Regions from separate parts of the Homo sapiens genome. Here regions 1 and 2 are each linked to region 3. Evidence: fine-mapped expression QTL. A gene starts in region 3. Each other region holds a variant in brackets. All regions are shown on one strand. Distances are from middle to middle.

Region 1 (11,147 bases), 66 kb after region 3:
AAATACAAAAAATTAGCCAGCTGCGGTGGTGCACACCTGTAGTTCCAGCTACTAGGGAAGCTGAGGATCACTTGAGCCTGGGAAGTGGAGGTTGCAGTCAGCTAAGACTGCACCACTGCACTGCAGCCTGGGCAACAGAGTGAGACCTTGTCTCAAAAAACAAAAACAAACAAACAAAAAATCTGGAAAATCTCTGGATGTGTTGTTGGCACTGATCACTTTAAACCTGCAGACTGTGTGTTTGTTCACTGATGGATTGTTGAACACATATGAGAACTTAAGTGCTTATTTGACGGTGGGCTTAGGCAAAGGCTCTCTGGAGCTTGTGTGTTGCTTTCAATACTTCTGGAAGTCTTCATTAGGAGTTGCTGTCAGATCCTAAGGCATCTTTTCTAAAATCTTCAGGGGTGGCAAATTCTGGACCTTAAAAATGGATTTGGTAATATCCAAATAGCAGAAGAATTTACCTATCCCTATCCCCACCCACTTAGGTGAAATGAGTAAAGTAGAAAAGCGGGGAAAGAAGAATATAAGACGATCTTAAACATGGATTTAGGTATTAGAAACAGCTAAAAATTATTTGGAACAATTTGGCCTGGGAACCACAGATTTTTAAAAGAAGTTGATGAAATGTATTTTCTTGATTGATCTGTTAAATGATACTGAAAGTGTTGCCAGAATAAGGTTCTTAGAAATTTTGGAAAATTTTGGAAATCAGTTCTAGAGGTGATTTCATTAAACAAGATTGCCTTACTTGGAACTCCAGGCTCAGGTCAGTTTGTAAATACTCAAAACCCAAACCCATATATTCTCGTTCCTTCTCCTGCTCCCTTTTCCTCCTCCTCCTCACCCCACACTAGCCACATAGACTCTGATTTTGTTTCCTTGAGTGGCAGCTGGAGGCAATAATGTGGGGCCTCAGAACTTGGCAGAACAAGTGCTCCCCTGCTGGATAAACAGGCCAACACAATGAGTTTTTCCACCAACTTCTGGTCTGTTGGCAAGTCAGGTAGATGCCCAAGGGAGCTGGCAGGCACACGTGGGTGCTTCCTGCTCCACCGGGTTCTGTCTGAGGAACCCAGAGATGGTTCTCCCTCTCTCTCATGTGTCTCCCAGCATGCTTTAACTGCCCGTGTTTGTATTTTCGCCCACTAGGGGAAGCTGCATGACCCCCAGCTCATGGGGATCATCCCACGAATTGCCCATGATATCTTTGACCATATCTACTCCATGGATGAGAACCTGGAGTTTCACATAAAGGTACGTATTACTGATTGGTCCCCAGAGAAGACACTGGGCCCCAGATAACGTTTCTTATACCTCCTCCTTTCAAGAAGATATAAAAGATGATCCTACTAATTTAAATGACATTCTTGTGGTAAGCAGAGCCCTCTTTATTAGTGACCTAGGCTAACAGGTGTCTGGAGGGTTTGCTTGAAATATCCACATAATGAAAGCAAAAGCCTTCTTTAGGAGGAAATCATCTTGATTGTTGCCCAAATTCTACCCTTTATCCTCTGGATTTCTGTGGGTATGACTGAAATGTGTTTGTGTTTGGGTTAGGGCAGCATTTTCCAAAGTGTGTTCTGTGGAACACAGTCCCTTGTGTTATTAATGGTGGGCTAGCAGGGAAAAGGGCTGTAAGGCCAAATGAGCTGGGAAAATGCTTTCTTGAACAGTGTTAAGTTTATCACAGGTTTCAATATGCTCTGCAAAGGGGACATGCATTAGATTACATTTCCCAGCTTATTTGAATGTAGACACATTTCTCCTCCTAAGAGTATCACAGACTTGTGTTTTGAGCAGAGTGTCACAGAGCAGAACTCTGAGAAATGTTGGGAAGAGGAATTCTCTTCCTTTTTATCTTCCCCCTTGTATTTTGTTTTTGTTTTAAACCAAAACTTGTTATATGACTTAAATTGGCATTAAAAGAGAGATTTCTACTCTCTTACTGTAGCTGTTAAATAATCAAATTTGATAGTAGGGTATATTCATTGGAACACCTCTTTTGCAAGTGGCTGAAAGGCACTTGTTTAAGCAAATAGAGGATATTGTTTATAAGATACAGAATCTGACAGTGGGCATTTTGTGGAGGATGAAGTGTGGAGGGCAGGAAATCTAAGCCCTGTTTTTCTTTTTAAACTTTTTAAACAATTGAGATATTGTTCACATACCGCAAAATTCATCCTTTTAAAGTGTATAGTTTGATGGTTTTTAATATATTCCCAAAAGTGTACAATGATGATCCTTATCCTAATTCTTGAGCATATCGTCACCTCCAAAAGAAACCCCAAACCTGTTACAGTCCCTGCTTTTCTGCCCCCTTGCTTGACTTCTTTCTCTTGTTCTGGAGCATCTTTCTCTCTTTTTGGTGGGAGAAGGGGTTGGCAACATGGCAGCTGCTGCTCCACCATTCCCTTATTTCCAACTCTAAATTCCCTTGGGCAGGGACTCATTGGCCCAGCCTACATAGGTGCCCCCCTTGCCCGATGAGCTGTGTCCAGGATGCACATGCTGTCTGGGGGCCCCCACTGTGGCTGGGGAGGGTGAAGGGGCAGTTCTAAGAAGCCTCGCTAAGCAGATCTGCTAAGAGATTTCCCTTCAGGCTGGGATCTTAGTGCACCAGGCCCATCTGTTCAGAGATGAGGAAACGGAAGTTTAAAGATGCAGGGTTAGGCTGGGCACAGTGGCTCAGACCTGTAATCCCAGCACTTTGGGAGGTTGAGGCGGGCAGATTGCCTGAGGTCAGGAGTTCACGACCAGCCTGGCCAACATGGTGAAACCCTGTCTCAACTAAAAAAAAAAAATACAAAAAAAGTAGCCAGGCATGGTGGTGTGTGCCTATAATCCCAGCTACTCAGGAGGCTGAGGCACGAGAATCACTTGAACCTGGGAGGCAGAGGTTGCAGTGAGCTGAGATCACTCCACCACACTCTAGCCTGGGCGACAGAGAGAGATTCTGTCTTAAAAAAAAAAAAAAAAAAAGACGCAGAGTTACAAGGCCCAACTTAAACACCAAGTTATTGATAAAACTAAGAATAGACCCTAGGTCTGACCAACCGCACATGCGATACCTTTTCAATTATATTAAACTTCTCCCCTTACTACTGTATACCTTTCGTAAATGACATAAAAAGAAGGCACCAACTGTTTGCCCAACTATAAATTACATCTAGCAAATCACTTTTCCTTAGGATTCCTTTTGTTGGCTAAAGCCTGCTTCTCCTTCTTGCCAAGGTTCTTTATATCTAAGGATACAGAAGCTTGTTGCTTTGATGGGATCAAGATTTAGAAGCTTAGTGCTTCTTTAGGGCTGTTTGCATTTAAATAGCTTAAACTACTGCAGGGTTCTTATGTGATAATCCTGGAATAAGATGTTAAACCAATTACTGCCCTCAAAATAGGGTCTTGTGTTAGAATCTTATTAAGATAAAAACAGCCCTAGCATGAAGTTAGGGGAGGAGAGGAACAACACTCTTAAGTCTCTAGGGCTGAATTTTACAGTCTGGATTTCTGTGTTGCATTTGTACTTATGCTTACTTGTTTTATAAATAATAAGTGGGCAAATTAGTTGCTGACTACTTTGTATTCTGAACCGGATAGTGAGAGGCTAAATCAAGAAAAAGAGGACTGACTAAGGCAATATCGAAAATCTGCTCCTTAAATGAGTCCCACAGAGGTTTTAAACTTTATTTCTGAACGTCCTATTTCTTAATGCCAAACAATGCCTATTTATTTTTCTTCCGCCTAGTCTCACAAAGTATTTTAAATGACAAAACAACAAAATCACCACCCTCGCACACACACCAAAAGCAGAAATTAATGAAATCAGAATCCTGTTTCTACTTACATTAAATGTGAATATGATTCTAATTGCCAGATTTGCCAGTATCTAGTTTGTGACTTTTTTTTAGATGTAATTAATTTTCTCTGTAATCTATGGAAATAAGGCCATATGTTTAAGATCTCAAAAATAATAGACAAGTCTTAATGAACATCAGACAATTCTGAAATAAATAGAATGCGCTGAACCAGGGTGGAGTTGGCTGCAGGAAGGACTGGGTTAGAGATGTCCAGGATTGGAGGTCAGACAGACCCATAAGGATGTGGGGAGTGTGGCAGCATGAAAGATTAGAGAAAGCTGTAGGCGTGAGTCTTTCAAATGTCACATAAGTGTGTCCATGAGAGATGGGCCTCAGGGACAGGGAAGTCTGACAGGTGTTCAAGTAGGCAGATGTTGCTAGGGATACAGGCAGCCAGGAGAGATGCCCAGCAGTGGATTCCAGGGCTCAAGCTAGGACCCCACATCTCAGAGTAGCTGGGATGGTTCCAGTCAGGTAGTTCCAGACCGAGGCACATTAAGGATAATGGATCAGGGCTGAGTCAGAGCTGGGACCAGTGCTGGGTTAGAGTCTTTGCTTCCCCTTGACTGGTCCAGAGCTGGGATGTAGGGATGAGGTTTTACCTGAGTAGTCACATCCCAGCTTTACAACTTTACAACTGTTTTCCTTTCTGCCCACTCCCTTGTTTAGATTTCAAAAGCACTTATGAACATAGGGCAGATAAGTTTATTGGGTAGGCAGACAGCAGATGTAAACAGAGTACAGAATCCTAGAGGGGGATTTTTGACATCGTAAAGCCCTATGGCTTCATGTGACAGATGGTACAATTGAGGCCTAGGGTCTTGGTTATGTGTGAATTGAGTCCCTAAGACCACATATTTAGTTAAAGCAGGTCTCAGACATCAGCCAGCATAAGAATCGCCTGGGCAACTGAGAACCAGATTCCTAGTTCCTTTTATCTGGGATTCGGATTCAGCAGGACTGTAGTAGGGTTCAGGGTTCTGCAGTTCAAACAGGTTCTTAGGTGATGCTGATGAAGGTGGTGCTGTGGCTGAGCCTTGAGACTAATGGGAAGGCCTCCTTTTCTTCTCACAGTCTAACCATCTTTTATCAAGTCCCATTTTGTTCAGATCTTTCCTGGATGCACCAGAGCTGGCCACCATTACCAGCTCTTGCTCAGTTACCTTTCTGAGCTCTTGTAGTTCTAAACACACTGCCCTTGCCCTCTCCTGGCTTCTTGCATGTGAACATTTGGGCTAAGTCTCCTTCATGATACTGTCAGTATCATGCAATAAGGTGAGGCCTACTGAGTGTTTTCTAAGCGTGCTTGGTGCTCATCTAACTTAAA[G/T]CCTAGAGTCCTCCTGTAAGTGTCTAGCACATGATGTTAAGAACACTTGAATGACAACCAAAGGGAGCTGTGATGTGTGTAGGTGGAGAGTGGTCCACACTTAGGGAAGCGTAGAGCAAGCGGGAAGTAGGGGAATCCCAGTAGAGCTGGCCAGATTTTAAGTCTTCACTTTGAACCCCTCTTCTTACTCTTCTTAGCCATGCATGATGAAAGCTTTCATAAGTACTAATAATGGCATTTTTGAAATACACTGCGGCATGTCTATTCCAAGCTCAATTTGTTTTTAACTAGGTTTCCTATTTTGAGATCTACTTGGACAAAATAAGGGACTTACTTGATGGTAAGTAACCTCAGTGCTTGTCCTTTATTTGTTCTGTAACGAAAGTCCGGGGAGGTTGAAATGGTTTATCACACTTCTGCTTAAGGAATTAATGAAAATTTATAGAGATACTCTGTTGCCTTCAGGGTATATGTTTATTCTCAGCCAAGGCTTAAACTTGCATATTGCAAAGAGATTAGATTTGACTGTCTTTGTAACAAACTTCCATTTTTCCTCCAATATAGAGTCTTTAACTTTTATTTTCTTCTTTGCCTGCTGTCATTCTCATCTTTTTAGTATCCAAGACCAACTTGGCTGTTCATGAAGATAAAAACAGAGTCCCGTATGTAAAGGTATGAGGAAGATTTGATTGGTGATGCAATTAATTTCTCTCCAGTCTCTGTCATAATAATTATTACATAAGATGTGCAGAATATTATCTGTAAAGAGCATATAGGCATTTATTCAGGCTCCTTATATTTAATATTCATCTGGTTTTAAAAATTGACATTTACTTTCTTCAATTGTATCTTTCCTTTATGACATTATTATTTAATATTGTTCACATTTAAAGAGATTTTGATATTGAGTGCAACTGTTTTTACTTTGCAGTAACGCCTATTATAGCATTATCTGTGGAACATCAAAGTAGCTAATATTGGTGGCCATGATCATAAATAAATAAAGATAGAAGGCAAAGCAAAACTTCATCCATTTCTTCTTCTCTCATTGATTTTCTTCTTTGATTTTCTGTCTTCTTAAAGTGTTGCTGTTCAGTATGAATATGTACTCAAAAACCTAGGAAAATTTGACAGTTCTTTTTTTGGTTTACGTCTATATTTCCTAGGGCTTGCTCAGACTTCTCTTTAATGTAGAATTCAAGCCCTGGGCAAGGAGGAAAAGTTGTTGGATCGATATTTCAGCCTTTCTATTTATCTGCACCTCTAGAAGATAAACAGGAAAATGTTTCAGCCTTTCAAAATATTGTTGCTTTTCAACTCTTTCAGTGGTGAACCTGAACTGATTCTCTTCCAGGGGTGCACTGAGCGGTTTGTGTCGAGCCCTGAGGAAGTCATGGATGTAATAGATGAAGGCAAAGCAAACCGACACGTGGCTGTGACAAGTAAGCATGGTGGGGGTGTTTCCTCCCCTGCAGCTTGGGAGACAGATATCTGCCCACCAACCGAGGGGGGTGGGGAATTAGGTACAAATGAAAGAATGCATGGGAAGGTGATTAAAGAGCAGTGCTCGGACACAGACGCCAGGGTATGTGTGCTATGAGTATGTCTAGGCAGTCATGGGAAAGGGTGCCTTCTGCTGTCCACAGGACTCTGAGGTCTTGGAGATATTGGGTGAGACTTACTGGACCCTGATAACAGCCTAAGCCTGAACATTAGGAAAAATAAACAACCAGCCAACCAAAGGGAGGGAAAGAGTAAGCTCATCAGTTTATTTATTTTGATCATGTTATTGTTCAGGTTAAAAAAAAGTTCCAAACCAACAAATTCTATAATATGTTGCAGTCACACACATGGAAATAAACCATGTTGGATTTCTGCCTTCTGTAAAAAAGAAAAAGAAAGGGAAGAAGGAAGTCAGAAAGCAGAGCCAGGAGCTTTAGGGAAAGCCTTCCGATATGTTACTAGCAGACACATTCAGATCGGCTCATTGGCTCTGCAGTTCCTTCCTCAGTATGTTCATTGCATCTCAGGGAAGCAGTGCATATGGGATTTGGGCAGCAGAGGATCCGTGAAAAAAGACAGTTGTCTATCTTATTAAGAGGGATGTGGACAAATGACAGTGAGTTCATATGAACAGAAGCTGAGAGAACTAAGGGTTTATAGCTTGCATGAGGGAAAAAAATCTGGAGGAGGGTGTGTGGACAATGTAATATATCTTACCGTGTTGAAGGTGCTGACACTAAGAAAGAGGGTCAGCTTGTTCTGTTCCATCTCAATACTTAGAATACCCATGATTGTTGGAGCTCTAGGGAGGCAGATTTCGACCCCTGTGAGGAGAACTCTCCAACCCTTATAGCTGCCCCAAGTGCTGCCTGCTACCTAGAGAGGTAGTGAGTTCACTGTTATGTTGTAAAAGAGATTCAGGCATTGGTTTCCTGACTGGTCTAGGCTCTTTAAGTCTCTTCTACCCAAGACTCTCTGATTCTGTGGTCCAGAACTGTAATTCTCAACATTTTCTCTATCTGAGCAATGTATCAGATGATATTCATGTATATAGCAACTTTCATAGGTGAGCCTATTCCTGGATGAAATGTTGGTCAAGCTCCACTTCTTTTTCTCTTGCTTAAAACATGCACACATACCTGAAAGAATGTAAGACAGATATTCTTATAGTAGTAGCATCTCTCATTTACGTTATTCACTCTGTTTCTGAAGCTGTTTTTAATCACAAATTATTTATGGCATACCTGATAATCCATTTTGATGCCTTGGTTTGGAACTGCTAATCTAAAAAAAAATTGCTATTATTCTTATCATTCTGGTAAGGTTTTTCTTTATTATTGCAATAAAATATACTTAATATGAAATTTGCCATCTTAACCATTTTAAAGTGTGCATTTATGTGATGTTAAGTACCTTCACAATGTGTGCAATGTCACCACCTTCCATCTCTAGAACTTTATCTTCTCCAACCAAAACTCTGTACCCAATAAACACCAATTCTTTATTCTCCTCTTGCTCAACCTACTTTATCTCTATGAATTTGACTGCTCTAGGTACCTCATGTAAGTGGAATCATAAAGTGTTTGTCCTTTTGTGACTTATTTCACTTAGCATAATGTCTTCAAGTTTCATCCATGTGGTAGCAAGTGTCCTTCCTTTTTAAGGCTGAACAATATTCCATTGTATGTATATACAACATTTAAAAAATTCGTTTAACCATTAATGGACGCTTGGGTGGCTTCCACATTTTGGCAGTTGTGAATAATGCTGTTATGAACATAGGTGTGCAAACATCTATTTGAGTCCTTGATTTCAATTCTTTTGAGTATATATGCAGAAGTGGAATTTTCGGATCTCATGGTAATTCTACTTTCAATTTCTTGAGGAACCGCTACTATTTGCTATTATTACGATTTTCTATAGCAGCTGTACCATTTTCTATTCCTAACAGCAGTACATCAGAGTTTCCATTTCTCTATATCCTTGCCACTTGTTATTGTTATTATTTTTATAATAGCCATCCAAATGGTGTGAAGTGCTGTTTCATTGTGGTTTTGATTTGCATTTCCCTAATGATTAGTGATGTTCAGCATCTTTTCATGTGCTTATAGGCCATTTGTATATCTTCTTTGAGGAATGTCTATTCAAGGTCTGTATTTATTTTTTAATCAGGTTAATTTGTTGTTGTTGACTTGGAGTTCTCTATGTATTCTGGACATCAATCCCTTATTAGATATATGATTTATAAAATTTTCTTCTATTCCATGGATTGCTTTTTTACACTATTGATAGTGTCTTTTGATATAAAAGTTTTTAATTTTGATGAAGTGTCTATTTTTATTTTGTTGCTTGTGCTTTGGGTGTCATATCCAAGAAATTATTGCCAAGTCCAATGTCATGAAGCTTTTCTCCTGTGTTTTCTTCTAAGAGTTTTATAGTTTTAGTTTTTATATGTAGGTATTTGATCCTTTTGGAGTAAATTTTTGCATGTACTCTAAGGTAAGGGCCCAACATTAATATATTTTTTGCATGTAGCTATCCAGTTTTTCCAACACTATTTGTTGAAAAGACTGTTCTTTCCACATTAAATGGTCTTGACACTCTTGTTGAAAATTATTCAACCATATATGTGAGGATTTATTTCTGGGCCCTTTATTCTCTTCTGTTGATTTATATGTCTGTCTTTATGTCAATACCACACTGTTTTGATTCCTGTAGCTTTGTAGTAACTTTTATTTTTTATTTTTCCATAGGCTATTGGGGTACAGGTGGTATTTGGTTACATGAGTAAGTTCTTTAGTGCTAATTTGTGAGGTTTTGGTGCACCTATCACCCGAACTGTATGCACTGCACCCTATTTGTAGTCTCTTATCCCTCACCCTACTCCCACCCTTCCCCTCAAGTCCCCAAAGTCCATTATATTGTTGAAGTGTGAGACCTTCAACTCTGTTCTTATTTTTCAAGATTGTTTAGGCTATTTGGTATCCCTTGAGATTTCATATAAATTTTAGGATGGATTTTTCTGCTTCTATAAAATATGTCATTGAAATTTTGATAGAGATTGCCATGAATCTGTAGATTGCTTTGGGTAATACTGACAGCTTAATGATATTAAGTCTTTCAATCAATCCCTTTATTTGTGTCTTCTTTCATATCTTTCAGTCATGTTTTGTAGTTTCCAGTGTACAAGTCTTTCTCTTCTTTGGTTAAGTTTATTCCTAAGTAGTTTATTCTTTTTTTGCTATTATAAATAAGGTTGTTTTCTTAATTTTTTGGGTTGTTCATTGTTAGTATATAGAAATGCAACTGATTTTTTACATGTTGATTTTGTATCCTACAGCTTTGCTGAATTAATTATTAGTTCTAACAGTTTTTTAAAAATGAATCTTTAGGGCTTTTTACATATAATCTGGTAAGATGGTTTTGAGAAATGATTGCTGGTGAAGGCTGAATGGGATGGTTGCTGGGGTCTCTGTCTGCTTGGCAGACAAAGACGAGGATTTGCAAGGATTTTTATTTCCAGTACCCCATCTTAATGAAGCATATTTAATTTTTGAAACCTTCTTTGCTGTTAGCATAGGTTGTAGAAGTGTATGTCTTAATCCTTCCTTAGGAAAGTCTTAATCCTTGCTTAAGAAAGCTTATGATATTACTGATAAGGCAAGGCTTATGCACATGACTAAGATAGACTACATCATGTATTAATCATGATGAAGTCTGAGGAATTTAAAGTGAGGCAGGGGAGGAGGTAGTGAATTCTTCAAGGGGAAAGTCATGCTGGAGTAGGAATTTAGAGGATGGGGCTTCAGGTAGAGCTAGAAAATCTGATATCTTAAACTGTTGACTAAGATTTTTAGATTAACTTCTTTGCTCCTTGAAGACATTTAAAATCTTGTATTTCTAGAATGAGCATTGTTTTTCAGAAGAAACAGGGGTCTCAGATAATTTTTAGAATTGACTGGACTTACTTCAATGAAATGGATCTATTAGGCATGACTTGTTATGCTTTTTAAATGAGAGGATTGCTACCTAAACCTACATGTTCTTTGTAGAGCAGTAAACTATTTTCCTTTTCAGACATGAATGAACACAGCTCTAGAAGTCACAGTATCTTCCTGATAAATATTAAACAAGAGAATGTAGAGACTGAAAAAAAACTCAGTGGGAAACTTTATTTGGTTGATTTGGCTGGGAGCGAAAAGGTAATTTGTTCTTTATTTGTATTATCTATAATTTTCCCCTTTTATTTGCTTCATTGTGCAATGGTATAATTTTTATGCTTTTCTATTTTCCTGCTTTAAAGAGCTTTTAAAGTTTCTGAGGCTCTGCCAAGGTGTTATTACATTTAACCCTTTGTCCCTGCTTTCTTTTCTGGTCCTGAGGTCTCCTATTGGTGTCACAGGCAGGTGCTTTGCATGCCAACTCTGATTTATCCCTGATGGGCCCTTATGATG
Region 2 (11,147 bases), 19 kb after region 3:
CCATCTGGTGGTTAATTCATTTTTTAAATAAAGGAGATGAATCACTTGAAAATATTTGGAGAGCAATGGTCTGGGATTCATGTATCTTAGAATTTTTTTCCCTGTCTTTTCCTCTGATATATTTGAATTGTAAACTAATTGTATAACTATTTAGCAAACTATTTTAACTTGGAATATTGTTGCCAGTCAGCACTCTGGGGGCCAGGCTGGTGGGAGGGGAGTCTCCTGGGCTATATAGAGGGAGGAAGGACTTGGAGGGGTTGCTGTACCCCACTCCCCAACATCCATCAATTGGTGGAGGAATTGGTTGGAGATGGTGATTTGCACTTGGGACTAACTCAGGGTTCTTCTCACATGCTCACAGATGTAATTATTTCTGCTATTGCATTGGATGAACTTCAGACCTTTGGTATCCCAATAGCAGCACCCATGGGGATCCGTTTCACTTAGATGATCCGGCACTATGTTTGACTGCTTCTGGTAGGAATCCATCCTTCTTCTGGGAGGTGTGGTGACACCACTTACAAGGCATTACTTCATGCTTTGATGGTTATGGATACTCAGGGATCCGCACGTCTTTAGTTCTGGAAGAGCTCAGCCACCAGGCACATCATCCTCTGGGCATCACTGGCAAGCCCAGGGGCTGGGACAGGAGAACCTGAGTAAGGTAAACAAAAGGAAAAGCAATATGAGGAGGAAATTACGGTGGAAAAAGAGAGGAAAGGAATGCTGTGGGCCCCCTTTCTGGGTGTGTTTGTTGTCTTACTTTAGAAGACACAGCATGTTTCCTTTTCTACAAAATTTATTTTGAGTACAAAATGCTGCTCTTTATTGCGTAGGTTTAGTCACTCAAATACAGAGGTCCTTTTTGGTGCCTTAACTATCATGTTGAGTACCATTTACTTAAGAAACTAACTGGTTTGTGAAAAATTTACCTATACTGCTGTTATACCTATTTATAAGCTATAAATAATAACTTTTAAAATGTTTAAATAGAGACACTTTTTGCATACAACTTAAAGAACACACAAGGCACAAAGAAAAAAGGAAAGATGGAATAACAGTTTCTACAGGGGAGAAAAGGTATTCAAGATGATCACTGTTCCAGCCTGGGAAAGATAGCAAGACCCTGCCTCTACAGAATATTTTTAAAAATTAGCCAGGTATGGTCGTGTGTACCTGTAGTGCCATCTGCTTGGGAGGCTGAAGCAGGAAGATCACTTGAGCCCAGGAATTGGAGGCTGCAGGTAGCTATGATTGCACCACTGCACTCCAGCCTGGGCAACAGAGCAAGACCCTGACTCTAAACAAAAAAAAGAGCAGTGATCACTTTGTGTGAAAGGACAAGGAAGCATGTGAGCCACTTTTGAGAGGCCTGAGTATAGAGGAGAGAGCAAGGTTGCTAGAAAGGAGGGGATTGGATGTGGAGGGGCTTGAAAGAGGGCTAGAGGAATTGAAATTTGATTTAGTTGAGTTGGTATTCCACTCTATCCTATAGCTGGATCAGAAATACTCCCATGAGACATTTCTCCTTAAATGTTGTGTCTTTTGACCTCAAATAACCCTTTTCAGGTTCCCATGAGGACGGGTACTGTTGAAGTTTGCATTTCACAGTTTTATGGCTGGTAGCCCAAATGAGTTTCAACTGTTACGTGTTCTTGACTTAGCATCCAAAAGGATAAATATATGAATATCTTATTTAATTAATAGTTGGAGGATGACATTGTTCTGGCTACTGGTTATCATATATATTATATATATAGATCACCAGATTTCAAGGAATTGATATATAATGAAGTATGCATAAATTAAGCCACATTTTAAAAGTAAAGTATAATAAAGTAATTTAAGGCATTTTTCTGTTGGTATAGATGTTCCCTGGAAGAATTTTGCATTGTGGGTCCCATTTGGGATATTGCATATTTCAGAGTCTCCTGAGTGTACAGTAGTAGTTTCATGTCTGTTGAACTTGCTTATCATTTTGAGGGAAGAGGTGGTAGAAAACAATCCTATAAATGGCTTAATATTGGCAAAATTCCTTTAGCACTAAATTTCCTTCCAGAAGATGTAATTTATTCAGGAAAGTGAATATGGAAAGTTGGAGAAAAGGTGCTTTTCAACGTGGATACTTAGGAGGACCATATTTAGAGAAAATCCTCCAACCTTTTTAAGGCTAAGGATTGCTTCTTCTTTTTTTTTTTATTATTATTTTTTTCCTATTCACGTCACCTCAAACCAGACACAAATCTAGGCATTAATGTGTGCACTATAAATATCAATTAGTCGAATGTCTTGATTAGCAGAACTGCAGACAATGTATGTATTACTGCTCTTCTCACAGACCTTTATGGGCCTATTTCATGCAGAGCAATTTTCTTCTTACACCAACAAAGTCATATTCTTCCTCGCTTGTGAAATATTGTAATTCTAACAGTGTAGTGACAACACTTAAATAAGTGCTTTACATATATGAAATCATTCATTTTATTTTTATTTTGTATTTATTTTTTGTTTTTTTGAGACAGAGTCTCACTCTTGTTGCCCAGGCTGGAGTGCAATGGCGTGATCTCTGCTCACTGCAACCTCCACCTCCCAGGTTCAAGCGATTTTCCTGCCTCAGCCTCCGAAGTAGCTGGGATTACAGGCATGCACCACCATGCCTGGCTAATTTTTGTATTTTTAGTAGAGGTGGGGTTTCACCATGTTGGTCAGGCTGGTCTCAAACTCCTGATCTCAGGTGATCCATCCCTCTTGGCCTCCCAAAGTGCTGGGATTATAGGCATGAGCCACTGCATCATTCATTTTAATCTTCAGTATGACCCTATGAGGTAACTGCTCTTGTCATTTTCCCTCTTGCCATTCTGCAAATGAGGAAACTTGGGCATAGAGAGGTTAAGCAAGTTGCTGAAGGTCACAGAAGAGTAAGTTGTGGATCCAGCATAGTGGGCTCCAGCATCCTTGCTTTTAACCATTTGCTATGTTGCACCTAAATTTTGGTTCATACCAGGAATTGAGAATGTTTGAGTGCACAGCATTTTCTAAACTAGAATTTCTCCGAGGCACTAGTTCTTTGAGATATTACCTGATAAAAGGATTTGATGTCAATCAAATGTGATAAGTGTTGCTCTCATTCTCTGCCTCTTGGAGGCTGCCTCTTTGAATCAGCAATCCTGCAGTAAATGGAATAAGCATACCTAGCTTTGTTGTTCCCATTAGCAACCGATTAGACTGAGACGTAAGTTTGGGAACGACTATAGGAGAAGAGAGCTGTAAACCTGGGCTATACTTAAAAGTGGAAGAATTTTTTCCATCTCTGTTGCTTGCCCTTGCATTCATCTCAAATTATGTATGAAGTCCCAATTGGCTTCTCTGTCATGCTGTGATTTCCATCTGAAAGGCTGTTTAGGACCTTCCATAGAATGCAGTGCCATTCCTCTCAGGGTGTGGTGCATTTACTTGGAAACCTCTTAGGCTACACTTATGAATGTTTAGATGTACTATTAATCCACATGGACCTGTCCACAGAGAAAGGATTATGATGCTTTTCTTGTAAAAACCTTTATTTAATCTCTATTCTTCTCTGTCTTAAAAATGGAGAGATTTATGTCTGCTTCTTAGATTTCTAAGTCCATCTGCTCATTCAGCCACACTGCTAAACTGTCTTCTAAAAAATTTTCAGTAGATTTTGAAAGATATATCATGAAGATAATTTTTTCTTCTTCAAATAATGACAGTTTTGTTTCCTTCTTTCCAGATGTAGACTTTTACTTTCTTTTTTCTTATCTTATTGCATTGGATTGGACCTGCAGGACAGTTTAAAATAAAATCAGTGATACTTAGAACCCTTGTCTCGTTCTTAATCTTAGAACAAGGTTTGCTTTACGTTTTTAGTAGATATTTATTGTCAAGATAAGAAAGTACAGTCTATACCTGGCTTGTTTTGTTTTTAATCACAAATGGATCCTGAAGACCTTGACTGGCTCTTGCTTGAATTGCAGTAGTCTTGGAATACAATTCCCTGTTTCCTTTCTACTCTTTGGTCTCTTTTGAACACTGTTGCTAAACTCTTCTTTCCAAAGTGCCACTCAGATTTATGCCAATTCTCTGCTCAAAAACATGTAAGGCTTTTCTTTTGCTCACTAAAATAAGTTTGAACTCCCCAACTTGGTTTCTGTGATTCAGCAAACCCCTCCACACTATGTTCCCTTTAGCCTTTTGCCTTGATGACTGTACTTCACTTCAGGACTCTGCCTTTCTCAAACCTAACTATCCATTGTGTCCTAAACTCAGTCTGCACGTTCACTCGTCCAAGCCTTTATTGATGAGGTTCCCTCTTCTTCGAGTGCCATTCCCATCTATCTGTGGCTGTAAATTTGTTCTCACCCTAGAAACTCACAGTGAGGTATTTCCATTTCTCTTTAGTCACTTCCTTCTTGGAATTATCCCACTTGGAGTGTGAGCTCCTCTCAGGTCAGGGTTTGCTTGATTTATTTTCATATTCTCAACACATGATTCCGAATGGGTACACATAATACATGATAAAATGAATGAATGAATGAATGAATGAATATTTCTTGTGGCACTTACATTCTCATTTTCATGATTATTTTTAGTCTCATTACCTCCCTACATCCCATTATCGCTTCCACCTGAGGACTAAAGAAGCTGCCTACATATTGCTTTTGTGCAATTCACCGTCTTTGGACCAAACTGCAAATGCAGGCATTTCTTAGGGGAGCACAATTCATTTATCTTACCTTCAAGCAACTCACTGTTTAGTAGAGGAGACAGATGGATAGAAGTGCACACACACACACCCCACCACACACACATACACACACTGGGAATACAGTACCACTGACAAGTGATTGAATAGTACTAAAGGATTATGGAGCATGAAACACCTTTAAGGGTGGGGCAAAGTGGTTTTGCAGTGGTTTCATAGTAGTTTGCAAAGTGGTTTCATTTTCCACAGAATGAAAATAGTTTTGTATTGAATATCCAAACTCCATTATCTTCTATCTAGTTATCCAGTTGGCAGTGCCAAAAGGAAAGAAATTAGAGATTCACTAAGTACAGAAAATGATTGCCTTGAAATGATTTCTCCTTCTACCAAAATATAGAAGCCACATGTACAAAACACTTTTCTCTTTTTGCAACTTGCTAGTCATAAAATTATTTTAATGTGAACTAAAAGCTGGCATCATAAAGAAAGTAAGGTCCAAGAAGTTCTAAATTGAAGACATTAGTATAAATGGACCACACTTAAAATTCTATTGATAGTCCTCAGCTCTGAAAGGGAAATGTCTGTAATTTACCTAAATTGCCTTGAAATGAAAAGAAATAAGAGACTTCCTTCCTTGGATGTCTGTTTCCTGGTGTTTTCCTTATAACCAGGCTATAACCAGTGATTGAATTATTATTACAACCCTGTAGCAATTATTTTCATTTCAAAAGAGGGCAAGTTATTTTCAGCCAAAGCTTACATTTCAAATAAGTTTAGTACAATATATATATATATATATAGGGTGGGAGGGAAGATTAAAGGAAGTATAAAAGTAATCACAAGTGTTCAGTAGTTTCTTTTTACTTTTTTTCTTTAATTTTCTTTCATTTTTATTCCAAATATTATATAAACATTTTAGGTTGATTTAAAAAAATTCAGGAAGTTAAGATTTGGAAAGTAGAAATGCTCCTTATCCCCTCTCCTCTCCCCAAGAATAAGTATGAACTGATGGGCGTTAGGTTATTCTAACACCTTACTTTTATAAATTCTATTCTAAAATACTTAATATATATAAAATAATATATATAAAACAAAAAATTATGAGATGTTCTAAAGAAATTAACACCCATGAGGCCACCTTTTGCTTAACATCACTTTACCAATATGCAACCCTCCCTTCATCTCAGCTGTTATCCCCCTCACTCTGAAGCAAGCACTCCCTGGAATTTTGCTTTTTTTGAGATGGAGTCTCTTCCCAGGCTGGAGTGCAATGGAGTAATCTCAGCTCACTTGCAACCTCCGCCTCCCGGGTTCAAGCGATTCTCATGCCTCAGCCCCCTGAGTAGCTGGGATTACAGGTGTGCACCACCACGCCCGGCTAATTTTTGTATTTTTAGTAGAAATGGGGTTTCACCATGTTGGCCAGGCTGGTCTCAAACTCCTAACCTCAAGTGATCCACCTGCCTCAGCCTCCCAAAGTCCTGGGATTACAGGTGTGAGCCACCGCACTTGGCCCTACTTTTATCATTCTCTATGGTTTTATGGCAAACATTTTTTTGGCCCTAAATGATAGATTGTTTACTTTTTTTTT[T/G]ATCTTGAATCTCCAAAATATTTATAAAAATACTGTATATATTTGTCTGTGACTTACTCTTTTCTCTTAACATTTATGTTTCAAATGGTCAAAAAACATAGCTTACGTAAATTCTATTTAATATAACTAGCGTATTAGTTTGCTTGAACTGTCAAAACAAAATACTACAGACTCAGTGGCTTAAGCAACAGAAATTCATTTTCTCAGAGTTCTGGAAATTGAAAGCCCAAGATCGAGGTGCCAAGGTTGGTTTCTGGTGAGGGCTATCTTCCTGGCATGTAGATAGCCACCTTCTCACCGTGCATGTCCTCACATGCCTGCTTTTCTGTGTGACACACACACACACACACACACACACACACCCACAGAGATCTGGTGTCTCTTCCTCTTCTTATAAGGACATATGAATCCTATTGAGTCAGAGTCCCACCGTTATCACCTCATTTATCCTTAATTACCCCCCTGAAGGCCCTATCCCCAAATACAGTCACATTGGGTGTTAGGAATTTTGCTAACCTCCAATGTGGGGCTTCAACAGTTAAATTTTGGGGTGGACCCAGTTGTGTCTATAACGAGTAGCATATACTAAAGCCATTATATGCTGCAAGGGGGTTGAGAGATGTGAGAACTCAGACCCATCCTCTGAAGCCAGGAAACCCATCCTCAGCTCATGAAGGGTTTCCTGGCTTTTTCCAAATAACAAAGTTTAGATTCCCTAGAAGAGAGCTCTCAGCGAGCCCTCCTAGAGAGTGGCTTGTGTGAGCAGTGAACAACACATACGTGAGCTAAGCCTGCAAACAAAGGAGTAGAGAGGCCACGTCAGCAGCATGCCAGCTTTTCCTGGGGAGGAGTGGACATTATTGGACCTTGAAGCCTGAGTATTGGAAGATGCTTGGATATCCAGCTGCTTCTTTCACAATGGGGTGGATGGCTACATGAAAAGAATTCTACAGCAATCAGACCATTTCATGGACTGCCTCCCCTCTGGAGCATCACGATGCTGATGTGTATCCTGTTTTATTCAGTGAGAAAAGAGAATCCCAGGCGAATGTTTTGGTAAGGGATTGAGAGTGTACTGGAACAGAGAATGAAAGGGAGGTAATTCTCTTAGCATCATTATGCCTTGCTGGAACTGTCTGGGACAAAAGACAATAGAAACCTAAGAAGTTAAAAATTAGCCATTTGGAACTGAGTTTTTGGTAACTATCATCCTGTGAAAGGCTAGCCTATTCCAGAATTCTGTGATGAGAACGTTTTTAGTAGAGCAGCAGTTTTCCATTTGTTTTTGACTATGAGATCATGATCCTTCCTCTCTCTCTCTCTCTCTCTTTCTTTCTGATGGAGTCTCACTCTGTCACCCAGGCTGGAGTGCAGTGGTGTGATCTCAGGGCTCACTGCAGCCTCCAGCTCCCAGGTTCAGGCGATTCTCCTGCCTCAGCCTCCTGAATAGCTGGGATTACAGGCACTCACCACTACATCCGGCTAATTTTTGTATCTTTAGTAGAGATGGGGTTTCACGATGTTGGCCAGGCTGGTCTCAAACTCCTGACCTCAGGTGATCTGCCCGTCTTGGCCTCCCAAAGTGCTAGGATTATAGGCATGAGCCACTGCGCCCGGCCAAGATCATGATTCATTTTAACAAGAAATACAAATATATTGCAACTTAGCACACAGACACACATCTGAAATAATAGTTTTATGAAGTGACACTGTTAATATATGTGATGTCCTCTAATATTTTCTATTCTACTCTGTCTCATTTTATTTTTTAAAATGCTGCTTATGATCTACTAAGTTTAATTCATGAACCAGCACATAGTAGACTAGGGTTTCTTGAACTTTTGGGAGTTATTATAGCTTCCTTTCAAAAATTGAATTTTCCCTAGCTCATTTGAAGGGCTGAAGGACATCAAAATCTTATTTTTCAGCATTCTCTAGTCCTGCTCAGCTCAATGCTCCACCTCACAGACATTATAAAAGTATGCGATATTTATTAATGCAATAAATATTTTTGAGTCCCAGCTCTGGTCCAGACACTATGCTAGGTACCAGTGAAATAAATTTTCCAGATTAGTGGCATGTTTGTTAAGTGTGTATAGAATGCATTTAAAAATCATCCTGTGAGCCAGGTGATGTGGCTCACACCTGTAACTCCAGTACTTTGGGAGGCCAAGGCAGGTGGATCACTTGCAGTCAGGAGTTTGAGACCTGCCTGGCTGACATGGTAAAACCCTGTCTTTACTAAAAATACAAAAATTAGCTGGTTGTGGTAGTGTACACCTGTGGTCCCAGTTACTCAGGAGGCTGAGGCATGAGAATCACTTGAACCTGGAAGGCGGAGGTTATAGTGAACCGAGATCATGCCACTGTACTCCAGCCTGGCTGACAGAGTAAGACTCAGTCTCAAAAAAAAAAAAAAAAAAAAAAAAAAAAAAAAAAAAAAAATCATCCTGTGTGCTCCAGGGAGAGGTGGTGCTGGCTAGCAGAGAAAGCTCAGGGTTTGAGGGAGTGGAGAGGAGTTGAGCCCTGATTTGCACACTGTGCCTTCCTCCCATCAAAGACTGGCTCTAAGGCCTTCTGCATGTAGATCACTGTGGGAAGTCCTGTCTTTTTCCTAGCCCTCCCTTCCTGCCAAATGTCCTGTCTAGTCCACATAGGAATGGAGACCTTCAGGCACCTAGGGAGTGGAGAGTCCTAGATTGAGAGGCTCTCTCCAGTCTGAAAAAGCCAAAGTTGCCAGTTCCCTGCAGTAGAATAGGCAGGCTCATGTTGAATGTTACCACCAAACCAATCATTAAATGCAGAGGCCACAGAGCCCTGAACTGAGTATCTCATGAGACAATTCTCATTTCCTCTGTAGTAGGCAGAATAATGGCCCTGAAAGATGTCCACTTCTTAATCCCAGAACCCGAATATGTTATGTTGCATGACCAGTGGGAATTAAGGTTGCAGATGGAGTTATGGTTGTTAACCATTTGACCTTCAAATAAAGATTGTCTAGTGCAATCACAGGGATTCTTAAATGGGGAAGAAGGAAGCAGAAAAGTTGAAACCAAACTGATGGCCTCATGAGACTTGACGGGCCATTACTGCTTTAAGGATACAGAGGGGTCATGCGAGCCAAGGAATACAGGCGGCCGCTAGAAGCTGGCAAAGGCAGGAAAACGGAATCTCTCCTAGAGCCTCCAGGAAGAAAGCAGCTCTGCAGGCTTCTTGACATCAGCCCAGTGAGACTCAAGTTGGACCTCTGACATCCAGAACTGAAAGATAATAAAATTTTGTTGTCTTAAACCACTAAATTTCTGTTAATTTTTTATAGCAGCGAAAGGAAACGTCACCCTACTACATGGTATTATTTAATTTTTTTTACAAAGCAAACACAAGTTTTTACCAGAAGATATCTGTTCCTGTTAGAGAGCAGCAACGAATGTTCATGAGCTATTCTCTATGAAGAAAAACAGTAATATTTTGAAGGGTTTATGTTCACATTAATAACCAAACATCTAGCATTCAGAGAAAATTTTATATGAAATGGAGACATTATGTATATAATCTCTGCTAAAATAAGAATTGTATTAGGTGCTTGCTATATAGAATATTAATTAAATAGTATTTTTTTCAGAATTCAGATTAGCCTATATAGTTCTTTCGTCATCGAACACCTTTTAATCTTATTTTTTTAAGAGTCAGTGACAAAGCATAGAAAGCCATATCTTACTCTTTCCTTTTAATGTTATTTTTGTTTCAAGACTACTTGCTGCTTTATTGTTAAATACCATTGGCAATGTCAGCTTTTGGATTAACGAAAATGGAACAGGTGAAGTAAAGCAAATTAAAGAGATTTATTTTATTCTCTTAAATGAGAACATCTAGATGTGCTTATGCTTGGCATAAGAAAACAGCTGGGTCCAGGCGTGGTGGCTCATGCCTATAATCCCAGCACTTTGGGAGGCTGAGGAGGGTGAATCACCTAAGGTCAGGATTTCGAGACCAGCCTGGCCAACATGGCAAAACCCCATCTCTACTAAAAATACAAAAAATCAGCCGGGCGTGGTGGTGGGCGCCTGTAATCCCAGCCTCTTGGGAGGCTGAGGCAGGAGAATCGCTTGATTCCAGAAGGCAGAGGTTGCGGTGAGCCGAGGTCGCGCCACTGCTCTCCGCCTGGGCAACAAGAGCAGAACTCCATCTCAAAAAAAAAAAAAAAAAAAAAAAGAAAACAATTGGATAATTACTACTCCTCAGTTACCAACAGACTCCTTAAAAATGGTTGCAATAGATTTCCTCAGCCAAGTCATGGGTATTTCTTTCCTGAATTCCATGAGGTTGGGCTTTCCCTTCTCATATTTCTGTGTATGTCTCCTGTGTTCACAGCTGAATGTAGGGTATGCCTGGGCATTAAGGCAACAGAATGATTTCAGATCTCATGGAAAACAAGTGCTTGGCCACTTCATTCTGCCTAACTTTAAGCTCAGCTCAAACCGATGCAGAGACAATTAAGGTTGGTAGCTGCCCCAGAGTCGGGCTGCTTGGTCAGCTTTATTGAACTGTTTTTCTACTCTTCAGGTACCTTGTTTGATTGCTCTTGGAAAGCTATTTTGCTGATTTTGTGATTTTTTTTCCCCATTTGACTTCTATGCAGCTTAGTTTTCAGTATTCCCCAAAGATGTCTCTATTTTGCCAGTGCCTTCTATTTCTCAGACCTTGGAGCAGATGGTTTTCCTGATAATTTATCTCCCCCTTCATCCTTAAACACATATCATTGTGGACACTCTTTTCCAATAACCCACATTGCCTCACCATTTTCTATTTAAAGCTTACAGTCCAGTGATC
Region 3 (11,147 bases):
ACTTCTTTTCTTTTCTTTCTTTCTTTTTTTTTTTTGGTAGTAGCCATTCTAATGGGTGTGAAGTGGTATCTCATTGTGATTTTGATTTGCATTTTCCTGATGATTAGTGATATTGCATACTTTTTATGTGCTTATTGGCTATTTGTATATCTTTTTTGAAAAAATGTCTTTTCAAGTCCTTTGCCCATTTTTTTTTAACAACTGGCGATCAATTTATTAAAATAGTTGACTTAAGCATCTCCAATGATGACTTCCACCTCAACTCCTGGCTCCATACTGATGGAAGTAATCTGCTTAATCTCAGAAGGGCTGTGCAAGTCAATGAGTTGCTTGTGGATTCTCATCTGGAAATGATCCCATGTCTTAGAACCTTCACCAAAAGGAGTTTTTCTTGTAGCGATTCTCGAAGTCTTAGTAGGCATTTGAACTGGTCCTTTCACTTTGAGATTCCTTTCCTTTGCTCCTCTGATCAAGTCAGCACACACCTCCTCCAGGGATTTTAAGCTGTGGCTCATAAACAGTGATTCGAATTCAGTGAATTGCCACCTCCGGCTCCAAGGGTGTTTTTCCAGTATCTTTAAAAGCCACAGCTGCTGCGTGGCTTCCTGACCGACTGGTTCCTTGGCGAGAGCAACAGCAGTGAGTCAGGAGCAGGAGCAGAAGCGGGCAGACCACAGCTCGGCACCACTTTCGACGGTGTCTTCCTCAAAGAGCTCTAACTTTTTTTTTTTTTTTTTTTTTTTTTTTTGAGACGGAGTCTCCCTCTGTAGCCCAGGCCGGAGTGCAGTGGCGTGATCTCAGCTCACTGTAACCTTTGCCTCCCAAGTTCAAGCGATTCTCCTGCCTCAGCCTCCCGAGTAGCTGGGATTATAGGCATGCACCACCACACCCGGCTGAAGTATTTTTAGTAAAGATGGGGTTTCACCATGTTGGCCAGGCTGGTCTGGAACTCCTGACCTCAAGTGATCCGCCCACTTTGGCCTTTCAAAATGCTTGGATTACAGGTGTGAGCCACTGCACCCTGCCCAAGAGCTCTAATTTTTAAATAGCTTATTTACAAAGCACTCTATGCTTCAGGTCAAACATTTGTCAAGCATCTGCAATATGCCAAGAACTATACAGATTTCATTACCTAATTTTAAAATTAAATTAAGACCCAGAGAGGTAATAGGATCTATATAAGAATGCTCGAAATAGTGAAAATAGCCCTGTATCTGGAGGTTTAGCTCTGCCACTATCATGATTTCTACTGTACAATATACCCATGCAAGTCACTTTAAATTATTTCATAGGTTAAAGGCCTTTTTACTAAAAAAGAAAGAAAAAATTTTAAATTAAGTCCTTACTCGTGCCAGGACCTGTGCTAAAGTGTGTGTGTGTGTGTGTGTGTGTGTGTGTATATATATAACGTTTCTCATTTAAATCTCCTGAAACCTCTGTAAGATAGGTTCTGTTATTATCCCCATTTTACAGATGGAAACATGAGCTTAGAAATGCTAAGTCACTAGCTAGAAATAATGCAGCTAGTAGGTGACAATTATTTGAATAGAGTCTGACATCAGAGACTGTACTCTTTAAAGCACACACACAGTATTTGGATACTCTTGTATCACAGATAATATAGGGAATTTCAACATGTAAAACAATTCAATTAGTTCACAATTTTAGTCAATTTGGTACATATCATTCACATGCTTATAAACAGAAAATAATAGGAAAAATCAGTCAACAAACACCTGGGGAGAGAGGGAAAAGGCAACTTCATTTCTCTTTTGATAGGATTCTAAATACCACAAATAGGAGAAAACAGCCAAATCAAAAGTTAGGAAATCTGTAACTTCAACCTTCATAAAGCGTAAAGTGTGTCTTTAAGAAGCAAAGATTTAGGGAAGTGCCATTTGGGCACCTCTCACTCTCAAAAATGAGAGAGCTGTTCTCCTTTTTCTTTTTTTTTTTTTTTGCGACAGAGTCTCATTCTGTCACCTAGGCTGGAGTGCAGTGGTGCGATCTTGGCTCACTGCAACCTCCGCCTCCCGGGTTCAAGTGATTCTCCTGACTCAGCCTCCTGAGTAGCTGGGATTACAGGCGCATGCCACCATGCCCGGCTAATTTTTGCATTTTTAGTACAGACAGGGTTTCACCATTCTGATCAGGCTGGTCTCAAACTTCTGACCTTGTGACCCACCTGCCTCGGCCTCCCAAAGTGCTGGGATTACAGGTGTGAGACACCGAGCCCGGCCCTGTTCTCCTTTTTCTTTCTTTTGCCTATTAAACCTCTGCTCTTAAAACGCACCTCCCCCTCTGGCCCTGCCCCCCCCCAAAAAAAGAGGCAAAGATTTAAAAAGTTAACAGGAAAAGACTACTTTATCACATTTAGCTTGAATGCTAAGTAGTAACATTTACTAAGGTCCACAGTTTACTGCTTACTACACAGTTTACCACTTTACTACACAATAACCCACCCTGGACTGATGGCTTCTTCAGGAACACTGAGAGAATGTAAAATACAGGAATCCTGATAATTCTGCATTCTTCGAGCAATCATTATAATCAAGCTGATGTTTTTATCCGTCATCATTGTGTATAGTTCCTTTGTTGTAATTGCTCCTTTCTCTTTGGTCTCACATTTTTTCACTCTTTTCACCATTGCTCTTTTGGGTTTTGTCTTTGGAATCCAATACATTCTCCAAAGAAACTTTAGCCAATGTGCCACCATCCTCTCTTCCTGTTTCCTGCCTTTTTTGTTGTAGTTGCTGTGCTTCCTTCTGCCTGTCCTTTTCCTCAAGTTATTTCCGGACTTCAGCTTCTTTATATCTTAGTTTAAGGCTCTCAGAGAGTCTTTCAGCTTCTTCAATGGCTTTTTTGATGTTTGCAGTTCCAAGTATTGAATGGACGTAATCCTCTTAGTGCTTATTTTCTCTGGTTTAACTTCTGTCTTCTTATTGAGGTCTTTTAGTGAAGAACTCAGGTAGAGTTCTTTAGGAACTAAAGCCACAGCAGGCATGGTGAATTATCTTTACTTTTCCACGTTCACGATAGATGCTATATTTCCTTAAAAGTAGTTTTTTCCGTGGCGTCGGGTGCGCTTCACTAACACCAGCCTTCTTGCCAAAGGCCCATCTCCCAAGAACTCGAGGGAGAATTAGCCTTGGCTACCAAGATGGAATCCAGCCCAGCTCATCATCCTTTGCCCATTTTTAAAATTTTTTTTTGGTTGTGAGTTATAGGTATTCTTTATATATTCTGTATATTAACTCCTTATCAGATGTATTATTTGCAAATTTTTTCCCATTTCATGAGCTGCCTTCTCACTCTGTTCATAGCATCCTTTGATGTGCAAAAGTTTTAATTTTGATGTAGTTAAATTTATCTGTTTTTTCTTCTGTTACCTATCTTTTTTTTTTTTTTCCCTGAGATGGAGACTCACTCTGTCGCCCAGGTTGGAGTGCAGAGGCACAATCCTGGCTCACTGCAATCTCTGCCTCCTGGGTTCAAGCGATTCTTCTGCCTCAGTCGCCAGATTAGCTGGAATTACAGGCACGTGCCACCATGCCTGGCTAATTTTTGTATTCTTAGTAGAGACCAGGTTTCACCAGGTTGGTCAGGCTGGTCTCAAACTCCTGACCTCAAGTGATCCACCCATCTCAGCCTCCCAAAGTGCTGGGATTAACATGCGTGAGCCACGGCGCCCGGCCTGTTACCTATCTTTTGGTGTCCCTTTTCAATTGTTTTGAATCCTACTTAGCCCATTTCCTATATTAAGCCTTCTCAGACAACACTGAGAACTTCATCCTCTGTACTCCCACTAGTTTCTAAGCTGCCTGAGGGCGATGACTTATTTTGCAACCTCCCTTCAAATGAGAGGCCCTACGTTATCTCCCTTGAAAAGGGTTCACTTAATAAATCTAAGTTTACAGAGTGACAGCAAATGCCATTTGCTCAGTTAATAGCTGATGAATGAACAGATGAACGAATGAATGATGACTGAACACAGTGACACACAGATACGTCTCTGTCCACTTGAGATAATCCTGACCTCCTCAGATAAACCAGTGTATGCAAGGTTCTGGGCATCTTCTGGTGGGCTCAGGGAAACTGAGAATTGGATTGTCCTCTCTAGTATATTATGAAGTTGATCATTTAAGATGATGGGTCTCTGAGCCAGAGCCTGAGAATTACTTAATTTAAAAACAGATGAGAAGGTGGCACCTGGGTCTTTTTAATCTACTTCCACTGCACATGAGGAGATGAAATAGAACTGGTACTACTTACAAGGGTTTATAAAAGTTGATTTTAGTAGGTCTGTCCTCTCAGCTAGGCAGAGAACACTTGTATTTTCAGGTATTACCCGAATTTAAGCAACAGATGTGTTCCTAAAATTAACTAACTTATTTGTTTTATGATCATTTGTTCAGCACCCAATAACATCTAACTTTCAAGAGCTTATCCTATATACATGTCAGGCACCGTGCTAGGTGCTTTAAAAGCATCTGTCTTTTAATTCCCCCAGAAATCACAAGATGATATTATTCCAATGACAGAGATGAGGAAACTGAGTCTTAAGGAAATTAAGACTTCTTAATTTCCTCCGCTCTTAATTTCCTCCGCCTGTTGGTCATACATCTAATAAGTGGCTGAGGTGGGATTCACACTCATGCATTGCTTCTTCCTAGGGTAGAATCCTTATTCAGTATGCTGCCCACTATGTGCTAGATGCTACAGACACAAAGATATCAAGCAGATATCACCACCCAAGTGCAGTGCTAGAGACAGGCACAGCAGATTAGGGGAACATCAAGGAGGGCCACCAACTCTTTATAGGTGTTTAGTGAGCTGGGAAAGTCTGAGGAAGGAGGGTTGAGCTAGGTCTTAGAGGAAAAGGAAGTTCTGGAAAAATAGAGTGGACACTCAGTTGTTCTGCCAGCCCGGCACCATGTCTGGGAATACCATCCCTCTTCTTTTGGGAACCTTCCCACCAAGGGATTCCTCCATAATCTTACAAAATCCCTGATTCTGGTTGATTGGTTTAGCACTAGATGCCAACCTAAACCAAGGCCAATCAAACCCAAACTCTGAACAGACATCCATCCTTATCTAGTGGTAGAAGTTGAAGGATGAAACCCAGGGGCTATTGGGAGCTGTTTCCCAAGTGATTTTCTTTTGGGATCAGGATGATCCAGACCCAGTTATCTAGAGATTTTAACCGGAAATATTGGATATGACCTCCATCCGGTTCCGGCTTGGGCAGCCAGACCGGACTTGCAGGCTCTTGGAGGTCGCATCCTGTCCTTCCCCCGGCAGGTAGAGTGACTACAAGTCCCGGGATGCGCAGCGCTCGGAGTCGGGCGGGGGCCGGGCGGACCTCTACGGTGACGTCACCGTCCCGGGGCGGGCCAGGGGAGGGCGGGGCGGAGGGGCGGGTCTCAAGGCGGCAGAGCGCGCTGGTGCTGATGCAGGATGGCTGAGCGCGCAGGAGCCCGGGAGGTCTGAGCCGGGCGAGGCTCGCTCCCTGCGCATCGCCTCCTCCGCCCGCCGCGTGGTCGCGGGCAGGTGGGCCGGGGGGCGCTGGGCAGGGGCGGGGCAGGGCCAGGGCAGGCCGGTCTGCAGCCGGAGGGGCCGGAGCGGAGAAGCTGCCCACCTTCCCGGGCTCGGAGCGGCCGGGGCTGCTCAGCCGGCCGGGCTCGCGATGACCTGCTGAGAAGCGTCGTCGGAGGCTGCAGGAGGCGGCCTAGCTGTGGGCGGTGCAGCTCGCGGCCTCCTCCCTCGTCGTTCCCGGCCCCGGCCCCCCACCCATCCCCGTGCCCCCTCCCTACCGCCGGCCGAGATGGCGGATCCAGCCGAATGCAGCATCAAAGTGATGTGCCGGTTCCGGCCCCTCAACGAAGCGGAGATCCTCCGCGGGGACAAATTCATCCCCAAATTTAAAGGCGATGAGACCGTGGTGATCGGGGTAAGTGGCTGGGGCGTCTGCCTTCCCTGCTGCTCCGCGCCGCAGCTGGGCGCCCCGACGCCCCAGACGCAGCGGAGGTGTTTAGGCCGCCCCCTCGGACATTCCCGCGGGGCTGGCCTCTCGGGTGGACCTGACCAGAGACCCCTCGCCCCGCGCACTATGGTTCCCTCCCGGGCGGGTGGAGAGGCGGCCGGGAGCGGCGGGCCGGGCGGGGGTGGCGGGGGTGGGGATGGGGGGCGAAGACGGGCTCGGCGCCGCCATTGTTCGCCGGGTGGGGGCCCGGGTGGGCCCATTGTTCCCCACGCTCGCCTCGCCGCGTGGGTAGTGTGTTCGGGTGACCCTCAAGCCGGGTGCCCAGGCCCCCTTTAAAGTGTGAGCTCTGCAACCCGCAAATGCTTCTGGGCATCAATCAATTCGATTTACCAAACGCCTTGCCTCTTCTTCTCACGACCCTAGCAAAAAAGAAAGAAAAAGGGGTACAGGAAAATTTCTAGTCGCGTCTCGGAGCTCCCGCGGCAGTGTAGACGCGGCTCCCCGCGGTGTTACACCTGGCTCCGCGCGCGGAAGGCGGAGGGTTGGGGGAGTACTGGTGGCCTCGGTGTCCCCTGGAGGCCTGGTGTGTCTCCCGCTTCCTCTCACGCCTGGCTGCCCTGGATGTGGAGTCCCGGCTTGATCCCTCCCCTCTGGGATGACCTCCCTCCCATGTCTGCAGACCCTCTGATGCGCCTCACGCTGGGTGGAGAGGAGGCTGTGTCCACATCTGTGGGGCGAGGGGGCTCAGAGCGCAGTAGCCCCCTGTGCCAAGAGCAGAAGTTACTTCGTGCGGCTCGGACCCCCCTCCCTCTCTATCTCCCTTCCCCACCTTTTCTCCCCCACCCCCTCCCCCTACTTAGCTCCCTCTCTGCAGCTGGGGCTGCTGGTAGGGGGAGGGAACACCAATGGATTGTAGTTCTTAAAGGAATCTGTCAGATGAAACAAACCAGCTCGGTCCCCCGCCCCTTCCCCGCCCGCTGTCCGTAGCGTGTGTGGCTGATGGTGCCCCCTTTGTATGCGAGCCGCGTGGGGAGGGACCGAGTTAATGGGAGCCTCCCGGTCCCCGCTGACACGTTCCTGGCAGCCTGCTCCAGGCTGCTGATGCAGCCTTCCCGTCCCCAGCATTGATTAAGTGATGTCATCCTGATCACTGAGCATGCTCCGACTAACCCCCTCCTCCCCTTCCTCCAGTGGCTGGTGTATTTAGGTCAAGTGATTGACAGGTGACAGTTTACCGAGGGTATTGCAGGAGTCCGCCTGGCCTTTCTCAAGCGCCAGAGGCCGACGTTTTCCAGCCCGGGCGGTCCCCAGCATCTTTGCCAAGGTTGTCTGCCGCAGTCGCAGCGAAGGGCCCTGGGGACCAGCAGGTGCCAGCTGTACCGTAAGGCGGGAGCTCTCCACGCTAGAGGAGCCTGGGCAAGGCTCTGGCCTCAGGGCTTTAACCTGTACCTGGCTTTAAAAGGCTGCTCCCTTTGACGACCTCTTCTCACCTCCCCATTTTCACAGTCATCAGGAACGTCTGACCTCCAAACGCTGTGTGGATGGGCGATCATTCTGCGAGCTGACCTATGAGGGCAGGAAAGCGGGGTTTTCTCTCTGTTTAGTGTTAAACTTGCAGAGAAGATATAAGCTACGATTATTGATGAGGAAGGAAATTCTGCAGTTAATGGCAGATAAGTGTTAGTGACATATACATAGGCAGTACCTGGGGCAGTTAGTGACTTATTTGGTTTACAGCTCTCAGCCAGTATCTGCCTACAGCCTGATCTGCTACTTTCTGAGCCAGGCTGTGGTTTAGATAGAGTGGGAGTTACTGGGGACATCTAGTCCCTGCCCCTTGGCTTGTAACAATTTTTAAACAAATAATTGTGCAGTACTGGAACATGTTCTGGCAACCCTATTTTTTTCCCAGAGGTTTTGAAGAGCCTGAAGAAGTTTTTCTTCTCCCCTCCTCCCTCCTCCCCCATCCCCTTTCCCCTCTCCCCTCTCCCTTCTCCTCCTCTTCTTCTTCCAGAACCAATGAAATGAAGTAATAAATCATCTTCCTTGACCTGTATGCAAGGCAGAGCTCCTTAATTTTAGAATTATCCTTCTTTAATATGACATTGCTATGAGTATATATTTCCTTATCTAAATAAACATATATTAGTGGCTAAACAAATTAAAACCAAGTCACCATATTAAATAAGAAGTTTAAATAAAAATCATAGATGTGAATATACACATTGCTTTTCAACCGTAAAGTAAGTTTTGCTCATCCTACTATAATCCTTTAATACAACAGTTTTCAGTTTTTCTAAGGTAAACTTTTTATTGAAATGAAGCATTCATATAGAAAACTGTTATCATAAGTATACAGTTGGATGACTTTTCATAAAGTAAATGCTCCCTGTAACCACCTCACAGACTAAGAAACAGACATTTTGGGACCCTAGAAATCCCCCTTGTGGCCCTTCCAGTCCCTAAATCCCCCTGCTTCAGGGTAACCATGATTCTCACTTCTGATGCTATTAGTTTTGCTTGTTTCTTTTTAACTTTATATTACATAAAACCATAGAGTATGTTCTCTTTTGTGTGTGGTTTCTTGGGATTAAGTGTTATGCTTGTCAAATTCATCCTCATTGTTTTGTAGTATTCCATGATATGAATATACTACAATTTGTCTACTGACTGTTGATGGATATTTGGATAGTTTCCGGTTTGGGGCTAATATGGCTAGTGCTGCTATGAACATTCGTTTATGTATATTTTGGTGAGTGCATGTACAGAATAGAAGACTGCCAGATACTGAAGGGTTTGGGAGTTGGGTTGGCATGTGCCAGGATCCTTCCCATTCCTAATTGATAATGTGGCACTAAAGGAAATGAGGGTTCTGGCAGTCTGTATCATGCCATATGCAATGAGTAGAATGGTCCCAAGTCAATTCAGTTGGAGCCGGCTGACATGGCTCAGTTGCAAGTGAAAACTGTCTGAGATGTACACAACCTTCCTTAGTTCTAGGGGCACAGACTGTGGATGACCAAAGAAGCCCAGATCATCCAGAAATATGTCACCTTCAAACAGAGACAAGTAAAGAATGAATTTTGGTGGAGTTATCTGTTAGTCCAAATTCAGAATCCCAGAAATTCTTTGTGTTTTTGAAACTGGGGTCATTTTTTCCCTTAAAGTTCTGTTTGTTATGGAGATATATTCCAAGAAAGAGATTTTACAGGTGGAGTTTCTAGATTTCTCTTTTATGAAAATGTCCTGTTTGGGAGAAATGTTCTCCATCACTCCTGCAGTTTTTCAGCTTTGTGCAAAGCTGTCTTTCTCTGACCACACCAGCCACAGTCTTTCCCCACTTTGAACTCCTATAGCATTTGTTTTGTATATGATCTCCCAAGTTTTTTGCCTTGGATTATTATTAGCTTTGGTCATATGCCTAATGACATTGTAAGCCATGTTTAGAGACAAGAACTGTGCATGTTTTGCTCCTTTATACTTCCCAGGGCTTTGTCTGTAGAAGGCACTTAGTAAATATTTATCGATCTCTCTGTGAATTCTGGAAACTTTACTTTGGTATATTTAACATAGTTTACAGAGTTTTTATTGGCCGTAGGCTGTGGGGAGTAGTTAAAAAATAATTTTAAAGATAAGTGCTGTTTCTCTGAGTGGGCCTGGTAAGATAGCATATATAATACTTAAAATGATATAAGAAAATTGGGAAAGAACTGCATTCAGCTTTGGCAAAAATTAGAAGAGCTAAAGATGCTGATGGTGAACTAGAAGTAGAGGGTGGGGGTGGGTAAGTGATTAGAAAAGAGGCTCCCTCCCATAACACATTAATTTTTCAGCAAAAATATTGGATTTACAGCATTTCTCAGAGTACTCCATTAGCTGCTAAAAGTCCTGGTGAGTCATCCATTACTTTGGGTTCTGCCTATTGGTTTTGAAGCAACTGTATTAATGGAAGCTCTCTGACATGGTGAGTTCTCAGTAAAGTTCTTTGAAATGGATTTTCACACTTCACTTTCCTCTTATTGGGCTTTTCTCTTGTTTGCAGTCCTGAGAAAGCAGGTCTTGTTAAAGATGAGTGCTTCCTCCTGAGGGCCTAAGAGCCAGAGCAAAACATCAGCCACAAACCCTAAGCTGGAAAGTGGCCCCAGTCTTCAGAAGCTTAGATTATTTCTTGGCAGTAGATGGATGGGGAAGGGGCCTGGAGACCAAATCCGCGCCTGAGTTAGGATTTTAGAGATTAAGTGAAGAAATACAGCTACACCTTAAAACTTTTCTTCTTTCCACAGTAATGGTCTTCCAAAGCAATAACATTAAAACAATTTTTTCAAATTTACACGCAGTAATACCACTTTTTTTTTTTTCTTTGAGACTGAGTCTTGCTCTGTCACCCAGGCTGGAGTGCAGTGGTGTGACCCTGGCTTATCGCAACCTCTGCCTCCTGGGTTCAAGCAATTCTCCTGCCTCAGCCTCCCAGGTAGCTGGGACTACAGGCGTGTGCCACCACATTCAGCTAATTTTTGTATTTTTAGTAGAGATGGGGTTTCACCATGTTGGCCAGGCTGGTCTTGAACTCCTGACTTCAGGTGATCCACCTGCCTTGGCCTCCCAAAGTGCTGGGATTATAGGCATGAGCCACCATGCTCGGCTTGTTTCCAGTTTGGTATGATTATGAATAAAGCTGCTATAAACCTTTGCATATAGGTTCTGTGTGAGTATACATTTTTATTTCTCTTGGGTAAATATCCAGGAATGGGATTGCTGGGTTGTAAAGTAACCATACGGTTAACTCTGTAAGAAACTGCCAAACTGTTTTCTAAAGTGGTTGTACCAATTTGCATTTCCATCTAAAAGCAGTAACATTTTAAACCAAAGTAAGTTTATTTAGTCACTTTGTCTAAGTGCATTCTAGTCTAGTAGTGTCAGGATGTATCAGTTCTTCATTCCTCTGTGCCCTAAATTCAGAGATGTTTATATCACCTGAAATGGGTTAGTGGTTTCCTTCACATGTACCCTGTGAAATCATGGACTGAGGGAACATCATAGAGAGCTGTAATCTGGCGTGTGTCACTGAGGCCACTCACTATTCACAGTAGGCACACAGTCAGTGAATGGGGTGGGTAGAGGTAGCAGGAAGGGTGAGACAAAACCGAGTGTAGATTCACTAGCT

The links. PIP is the estimated chance that this variant, and not a neighbour inherited with it, causes the effect. A credible set is the group of variants that fine-mapping cannot tell apart.
Region 1: its variant is the best candidate, but not a certain one, in a credible set for the expression of KIF5C in whole blood (INTERVAL, PIP 0.86).
Region 2: its variant is the best candidate, but not a certain one, in a credible set for the expression of KIF5C in whole blood (TOPMed, PIP 0.82).

Annotation. Positions count from the first base shown.
Region 1 is chr2:148,936,129-148,947,275 of GRCh38, forward strand. It overlaps KIF5C (kinesin family member 5C), which reads left to right. Exons shown (of 26, transcript NM_004522.3): 4 at 1,156-1,260; 5 at 5,482-5,530; 6 at 5,807-5,862; 7 at 6,545-6,632; 8 at 10,771-10,895. Among named protein-coding and RNA genes, the nearest start is that of KIF5C-AS1, 47 kb to the left of the region's middle. The variant G/T (reference allele first, on the strand shown) is at 5,191.
Region 2 is chr2:148,889,197-148,900,343 of GRCh38, forward strand. All of the region lies in intron 1 of KIF5C (kinesin family member 5C), which reads left to right. KIF5C-AS1 (KIF5C antisense RNA 1) reads right to left here and starts at 5,818. Exons shown (of 4, transcript XR_001739733.2): 1 at 1-5,818. The variant T/G (reference allele first, on the strand shown) is at 6,318.
Region 3 is chr2:148,869,794-148,880,940 of GRCh38, forward strand. It overlaps KIF5C (kinesin family member 5C), which reads left to right and starts at 5,434. Exons shown (of 26, transcript NM_004522.3): 1 at 5,434-5,950. The coding sequence starts at 5,825. KIF5C-AS1 (KIF5C antisense RNA 1) reads right to left here. Exons shown (of 4, transcript XR_001739733.2): 3 at 7,219-7,549; 4 at 3,204-6,402. It also overlaps the pseudogene RPS20P13 and the pseudogene USP8P2. RefSeq lists a silencer at 5,258-5,727 and enhancers at 6,100-6,678, 6,679-7,258.